2 linked regions of the Homo sapiens genome follow. The protein of the gene in region 1 purifies or fractionates together with the protein of each later gene. This does not show direct contact. Each region holds a gene or a part of one and is shown on either strand. Other genes may lie near its edges. The genes, in order: ZFAND4 and A2ML1.

The links.
Region 2: the proteins of ZFAND4 (region 1) and A2ML1 purify together in Homo sapiens (affinity purification with mass spectrometry; 2 studies listed by BioGRID and IntAct, with this or other methods). This does not show direct contact.

Annotation. Positions count from the first base shown.
Region 1 is NC_000010.11:45,671,308-45,675,221, forward strand, and holds the start of ZFAND4 (AN1-type zinc finger protein 4), read right to left. Parts: upstream 1,466-3,914; 5' UTR 943-1,465; exon of another isoform or gene 756-942; coding exon of another isoform or gene 705-755; intron 1-704.
Region 2 is NC_000012.12:8,820,817-8,824,730, forward strand, and holds the start of A2ML1 (alpha-2-macroglobulin-like protein 1 isoform 1 precursor), read left to right. Parts: upstream 1-1,804; 5' UTR 1,805-1,835; coding exon 1,836-1,897; intron 1,898-2,365; coding exon 2,366-2,549; intron 2,550-2,903; coding exon 2,904-3,066; intron 3,067-3,914. UniProt on the Homo sapiens protein: Is able to inhibit all four classes of proteinases by a unique 'trapping' mechanism. This protein has a peptide stretch, called the 'bait region' which contains specific cleavage sites for different proteinases.

The sequences.
Region 1 (3,914 bases):
GACCCAGCGATCCCATTACTGGGTATATACCCAAAGGATTATAAATCATGCCACTATAAAGACACATGCACACGTATGTTTACTGTGGCACAATTCACAACAGCAAAGACTTGGAACCAACCCAAATGTCCATCAGTGATAGAGTGGATTAAGAATATGTGGCACATATACACCATGGAATACTATGCAGCCATAAAAAAAGGATGAGTTCATGTCCTTTGCATGGACATGGATGAAGCTGGAAACCATCATTCTCAGCAAACTGTCACAAGGACAGAAAACCAAACACCGCCATGTTCTCACTCATAGATGGGAACTCAACAATGAGAACACTTGGACACAGGGAGGGGAACATCACACACTGGGGCCTGTCGTGGGGAGTGAGATGGGGGGAGGGATAGCATTAAGAGAAATACGCAATATAAATGACGAGTTAGTCGGTGCAGAAAACCAACATGGCACATGTATAGCTATGTACCAAACCTGCACGTTGTGCACATGTACCCTAGAACTTAAAAAAAAAAAAAAAATCAATTCCCAAAGCATTTCTCTCATTTCTTCTGAAAAGTTTCTAAAAACACAACTCCAAGGATGAAATGGAAGTTAAAGGTAAACAGGCAATAGCGCTGAATACGTAATTTCAGTAACTCAGAATTTTCTCCAACCTCTGCTCTAAAGAAGCTTAGCTACAGAAGAGCAGTTACCTTTGAAACATTTTCCCCAACATAAAGATATCCGGAATGTGAAGCTGCCATTAAAACTGTGACACAGATCTACATTTACTGATACATCAAAACATCCCTAAAGTTCGAAATACGAGCTACAGAATCACATCAACCGCCTAACTTGTCTGTAGCCTAAACTCTAGTCCGGAGTTCATCTGCAAGCGGAATTGGGAAGTATTTCAGAGCCAGCATCTCCTCGCGCCATCCAGGTACCTACACACTTGAGGCCACCGAGTCACCTGCGCAGCCGTTGCTCCTCCAAGACCAATCCGGGCTCCCCAGACCCACCGGCCTGAATCTGGAGGACAGCAGTCCGCGTGACAACAGCGACTCGGAGATCAGCACCCGTCGGGAAAGCCGCGTACCCGTTGAAGCTGGCGTCACGCCCAAAGGAACAAACGCCAGAGCGTGTGTCCTGGGCAAAGGCGGCCCGCCGCTCCGGTCCCCGGGCAGCAGCGGCCGGCGTCAGGCCGCAAGGCGAGGGGCGGGGACAGGACTCTACCCGGCAGCCCAGCGCCGAGCGCCCGCGCCACTCCGGCCTTGCGCCATTCCGGCCCCACGACGGCCGGCGGCGGCAGCGCGGCTGGGCTCAGCGGCTCGCAGCCCGGGCGCCCCCCCTGCCGGCCGCTCGCTAGCTCAGCCTCACCCGCAGTCTTGTCCGCTGGCTCGCTCGCCCGCCTACAGGTCGACAGGGCCCAACGACCCGGCGAGCAACTTCACGGAAGGCACTGGCCGACAACGCTCCGCTGCCGCCGCGCCCCGCCCCTTTGTGACACCACCTACCAATCGCTGGACGGCGCTTTCGCTGCCCTCCAATCAGCGCGGGCGGGGGCAGGCCTGGCCCCCGGACGTGGGCGGTTGCCGGGGCGCCAGGGCCCTGGGGCCTTCTTGGCATTCGCTGGAGGTTGTGAGTTACGAGGCCCGGATGTTGATCTTTTATTACTAGCAACACTGGACCCCTGACTCGTGCCCACGCGGGCGTCTGGAGGGCAGCCGCATGGCCTGCTGGGAACGGCGGGGTTGAAGCCGGAGCCGCCCTCCGTGAGACCCACCGGGGATCCTCTTCCAGGCGCCTGATTTGCTGGAGATAGGCGATACAGGCAGACGCTGTCCAGTCGGTGGCCTCTCCAGAGTGAGGGGCGCTCCTGGTGCGTTTGGGCCGGCCTGTCCTAACAAATCTGCTTTAGGCTTCACCGTCCCCTAATGTTTCTGGCCTCAATTGCCTCATCTGGAAAATGGGGGCATTACCGTGCCTGCTTGAAGACAAAGGCGAAAACAGATAACTTTCTGTAGTCCTCATACAATTTACTGAGAACTGTAGGCCAGGCAATGGAGTAGGCACCCTGGGCTCAAATCCCAGCGTTGGGTAAGCCCAGCCACACCTCCTGCTCCAGTTTCCAAGCTGCTGAGCTGCGGTGTAAACAGTAACTGGCTTCAAGCCAACACCTGCCTTTCAACCTAACATGGGAGCCCACTGCCTCGTTCCGTTCCCCCTACCGATTTTCCAACTCCGTGAACCTCCTTCACTAAGTGGGTTACTCAGCTGACAAAGAATGTCATCTCACTCCCACTGCGGGTTCACTCATCCTCGACTTCTGGCTCAGAGGAGCCAGTCTAATATGAAACTAAACATCTAATCTGTGTCTCCTGTCCTCTCTCATTCTTCTGAGACCCTACCCACCAACTTATCTCCACAGTTCAACGAACTATTGAGCATACACTGGGGGAGTATGGTGAGGCACTGGGCATTGATTCACCAGTCTCGCCGTTGGTTCCTTCTGAAACTCCACATATGCTTAATGCTAAATAGATTGGAGACCTTTGAGGACAGAGCTATGATGGTAATCATCTTTGCATTCCTGAGCCTAGAATAGGGCCTGTGATGGAGACTTACTGAGTAAAAACCTTAGCGTTTCTCACCCTTGCCTGCCCACTTCATTCACACTGGAGAATTGACAGCATGGACCGTGGAGTCAGGCAGGTGTGTTTAAAGCCTTGCCTCCCAATACCAGAAGCTCCATTACCTGGCCAAGTCATTCATTCTTTACAACATCATCATCATTATCATCTGCCATTCTTCAAGTGCCAGATAGTTGATAAGGGTCTTTACGTATTCTCTCCCCATCACAATCCTGCAAAGTTGGTAGTGAAATCCCTCGTCTACAAAGGAGTAAACAAAAGCCAATTAAAGTAGAACAATTTACCTATAATCAAACAGCTCTATGTCGGAAAGCCATATTTAAACTAGGACACAATACAAAAATCCAACCTTGTTCCATTATTCCACATTGCTTCCAGATTTTAGCTTTATCTGTAAAATTAGTGTTACTACATTACCTATCTGATAGACCATGGAGACTGAATAAAATAGCATTAAAAGTTGTTACCATAGGAACTTTTTTTTAACGTAAGTTCTCTCTCCCTTTCAAGCCTCTCAAAATAGCAGCTTGCGTATTTTCTAAACCTGTTGTCTCCTGAATCCCCTGAAACCAATCCTACTGATTGATGAGTAGATTTAGTTGTTCCAAAAGAAAATCATCGTATTTAACAAATGCTGACTCTGACCGACATTGGGTACTACAGCAAGAAACTATGTGCACAAATAACCTACGGACAGAAGGAAGATGCATAAAATGAATAGGGGAAAGGAGTGGCCAACTAGCAAGTGCCCTCATCTGTCATCACGTCACTCTCACAGCAGACTTGGGCAAATGGTTGACCTGTGGGAGCTGAACAAAATCTTTGACTCTGGGTATGAGTAATTCCCTGTCTGATCTTACAGTGCCCAAGGAAGAAGTCAGTAGCTCCAGGATCGCTGAGACCAACCTGGGCGGCCTACAAGACTGCACCATGGTGACAGGCTGAATAGTCAGCAGCAAGACGACAGAGCACCAAAAAACACAGACTAGAATGGGGTCAGCCATCCAGGTGGCTAGTGGCTACTGCCTTTGACGATGCAGATAAAGAAAATTTTCATTCCTGCAGAGTTCTATGGGGCAGTGCTGCTCTAGAGGCTGACATTTCTATCCTCAGCACTTCCCCCGGCTATTACCTAGGTTCATTCTGCTGCTTCCACAAGGCAAGAATGGAACAGAATGCCTTAGAGCAATGGTCAGCGAACTGTTTATGTAAAGGGGCAGGGCCAGGCGCAGTGGCTCACGCCTGTTATCCCCGCACTTTGGGAGGCCG
Region 2 (3,914 bases), on another chromosome or scaffold:
CTAAGATCAGTAATTGAGTTATTTTGCAGGCCCTGCACTCCATGGGATCAGCTGACACCACACAGACCAGTCATCTGGCCCAACCAGTTCTGCCATCTCACCCAGGAACAGAAGACATTAAGAAAATCTAACTTCGACCCTCTATGATTCCATCTCCAACCTGAGCAATCAGCACTCCCCACTTCCCAAGCCCCTACCTGCCAAATTATCTTTAAAAACTCTGATCCACGAAGGCTCAAGGATTTAAGTAATAATAAAACTCCAGTCTCCCACACAGCCGGCTCTGCGTGAATTACTCTTTTGCCATTGCAGTTCCCCTGTCTTGATAAATCGGCTCTGTCTAGGCAGCAAGCAAGGTGAATCCATTGGGTGGTTACAAAACGGGGTCTCACTATGTTGCCCAGGCTGGTCTCAAACTCTTGGGCTCAAGCAATCCTCCAGCTTCTGACTCCCAAAAGCTGGGATTATAGGCATGAGCCACTGCACTTAGACTAATTTATATTTTAGGTGACTTCTAAGTATTACCATCATAAAGAACACTGTGGGCTGGGCACGGTGGCTCATACCTGTAATCCCAGCACTTTGGGAGGCTGAGGTGGTCCCTGGAGCTCAGGAGTTCGAGACTAGCCTGGGCAACATGGTGAAACCCTGTCTCTATTAAAAATACAAAACAATTAGCCAGGAGTGTTGGTGCCTACCTGTGGTCCCAGCTACTCAGGAGGTGGAGGTGGGAGGATCGCTTGAGCCCAGGAGGTCAAAGCTGCAGTGGGCTGAGATTGTGCCACTGCACTCCAGCCTGGGTGATAAAGTGAGACTCTACTTCAAAAAAATAAAAAATAAAGAAAAGAAAAAAAAGAAAGAACAGTGTGAAAAAACTCAGTGTTACACTTGTGCATACATGCATGCTGTCCTTTTTTTCCTCATTAAGAAACATTTCCAGAGTAGGAGTTGCTGAGTGAAAGAATATGCAAATCTCAAAGGCTTTGGTGTGTATTACAAAATTGCCATGAGAAAGTTATCCACATTCTATTTTCTCTAGGACTGTGTGTGTCCCTATTTCCATACAGTCACAACAATACTGAGTAGTATTAATTTTTTTTTTTTTTGAGACAGAGTCTCGTTGTGTCACCCACGCTGGAGTAAAGTGGCATGATCTCGGCTCACTGCAACCTCCACCTCCCGGGTTCAAGCGATTCTCCTGCCTCAGCCTCCCAAGTAGCTGGGACTATAGGCACCCACCACTATGCCCAGCTGATTTTTTTTTCTTTGTATTTTTAGTAGAGACAGGGTTTCACTATGTTGGCCAGGCTGGTCTTGAACTCCTGACCTGGTGATCTGCCCACCTCAACCCCCCAAAGTGCTGGGATTACAGGCGTGAGCCACTGTGACCGGCCAAGTTTACTGCTTTTCTATTGAAACTGTTCTCATACCCGTGTTCCCAACTACACCTTAATTGAATAATAAAAGAAAATAAGGACATTAAATGAGAACAGGAATTGGAATGAGACCAGAAAAAAAGGGAGGAGTTCAAAATATGTTCTGAGAGCTTTACCATTATGAATACTCAGCTCTGGTTTTCCCCCAAAACTGGCTGAACCAGTATGGATGTTCCAGGCAGAAACAACTTTAAAGAAGTGAATAGTGGCCCTACCCTGGTCCACCACCTAACCTGGTGGTTACAGAAGGAGGAACACAGTCCTCCTGTGTTCCAGGTGCCAGGAGGTGACTGACTATAGCATCAGTCATCACTGCACACCCTACCTGGAATTAGTATATAAAGCTACGCGGAGCGATCTCTGCCCCTGACCCTGGAAAAATCTGTCTCACCCACAAAGATGTGGGCTCAGCTCCTTCTAGGAATGTTGGCCCTATCACCAGCCATTGCAGAAGAACTTCCGTGAGTGCTTGGTGTCAGAATTGGTTTATTAGGGCAGCGGCTTCTTCGCCTAACTTTCTCAAACATTTATATGGAGATGGGGAGATCAACTTTGGTTTATCTTAATTTCCTCCTCCTTTTTTCTCTTCTTTGGTTCCACTGATCCTTTACCCAGAGAGGGAGGCTGACGCATGAAGAGGAAGCTTTAAAAAAGATAAATATTAAAATGTGCCCTGTTTTCTGAAATAGGCCTAATTTCCTCCTTGGTGCTCTAGGCATGTGTGCTCGGTGAGGGCCTCCTGATGGCGGAAGTTGAAGACTGTGCACTGAGTCGTTGCCCCTCTGCTTCTTGTAGAAAATGAGGTGCATAAGGAAGGCAGGGGCTTGGTCTGTCTAATTCACTGCTACTTGCTGAGCGCTTAGGAGAGTGCTGGATTTTTCGAGTGAATGAATCATTATTGCCCTGAAATCCTTCTGCTCCTTTAATAGAAACTACCTGGTGACATTACCAGCCCGGCTAAATTTCCCCTCCGTTCAGAAGGTTTGTTTGGACCTGAGCCCTGGGTACAGTGATGTTAAATTCACGGTTACTCTGGAGACCAAGGACAAGACCCAGAAGTTGCTAGAATACTCTGGACTGAAGAAGAGGCACTTACATTGTATCTCCTTTCTTGTAAGCACAGACTCAGCCCTCACTCGAATCCCTTACTTGCCTATTCTCCTCCCTAGGCTCACTATAATCTACTTTAAGTATAATTTCTGTTATCTTTTGCCACGGCCTCTAAACCTATTTTTTCTCAACTTAACCTCAATCCCCGGCTATAACTCACCCACGGTTTCCTCGACCTAGGATTTCTCCCTTTAGTTCCTGACCTTAATTCTTCCTCGTGGTAATTTGTTTTATGTCTCTATCCTTGCTACCCCCATCTAACTCAGCTCTTTCCTTTAACTCACTGTTGGGTTGAGACCAGTTGATTCTGTTCCCCCAATCCCTTACCCCTCCCCAGAAGTCCCCTTTCTTGGTCAGGTACCACCTCCTGCTGGTGGCACAGAAGAAGTGGCCACAATCCGGGTGTCGGGAGTTGGAAATAACATCAGCTTTGAGGAGAAGAAAAAGGTTCTAATTCAGAGGCAGGGGAACGGCACCTTTGTACAGACTGACAAACCTCTCTACACCCCAGGGCAGCAAGGTAAGAGTCACATATTTGGGGTTCGACTAAAACCTGGGGAAACCGCTGTGCACAGGGGTAAAGAGGGGATTTGTGGTTTGACAGTAGGCTTTGGAAAAAAAGGAGTGCAGAGGAGAGGAAAATCTGGGGGGATTAAGTAGTGCAAGTGTTGAATACATGCTGCGCTACACAAGCAAGAGAAGTAGGTGGGGGTTGCTACTGAGTTTGTGTATCTAAAACAAAAGTACACATTTCTTCTGGAATAGAATTTGGCAAGTATAACTGGGTTGCTGGGCCTTACAACAAACTGCTTGTAAATGGCTAAGAAAGCACTGAGGGCATTTGGCTTGAGCTACTGGGGTTTTTTTTTTTTTTTTTTTTTTTTTTTGTATTTGTTCATTCGTCCTTACAGGGGCACTTCATTCTGAGATTTCAAAGTCAGGCACCCTGAAAAGAAACTATGTTTGGGTTTTTTTTATTTTTTTATTTAAAATTTTTGTGGGTACATAGCTGGTGTATATATATTTATGGGGTAGATGAGATATTTTTATACACACACACAATGTGTAATCATTACATCAGGGTACATGTGTATCCATCACCTCAAGCATTTATCATTTCCTTGTATTACAAACAATCCAATTATACTCTCTTAGTAATTTTTAAATGTGCAATAAATTATTGTTGACTGTAGTCACTCTTTGTGCTAAAAACTACAAGATCCCTAGATCTTATTCATTCTAGCTAAATATATTTTTGTACCCATTAACCATTCCCACCCCACCCCTCATCCTGCCCACCATTACCCTTCCCAGCATCTGGTAACCATCATTCTGTTCTCTCTCTCTCTTTCAAAAAAATTTTTTTCC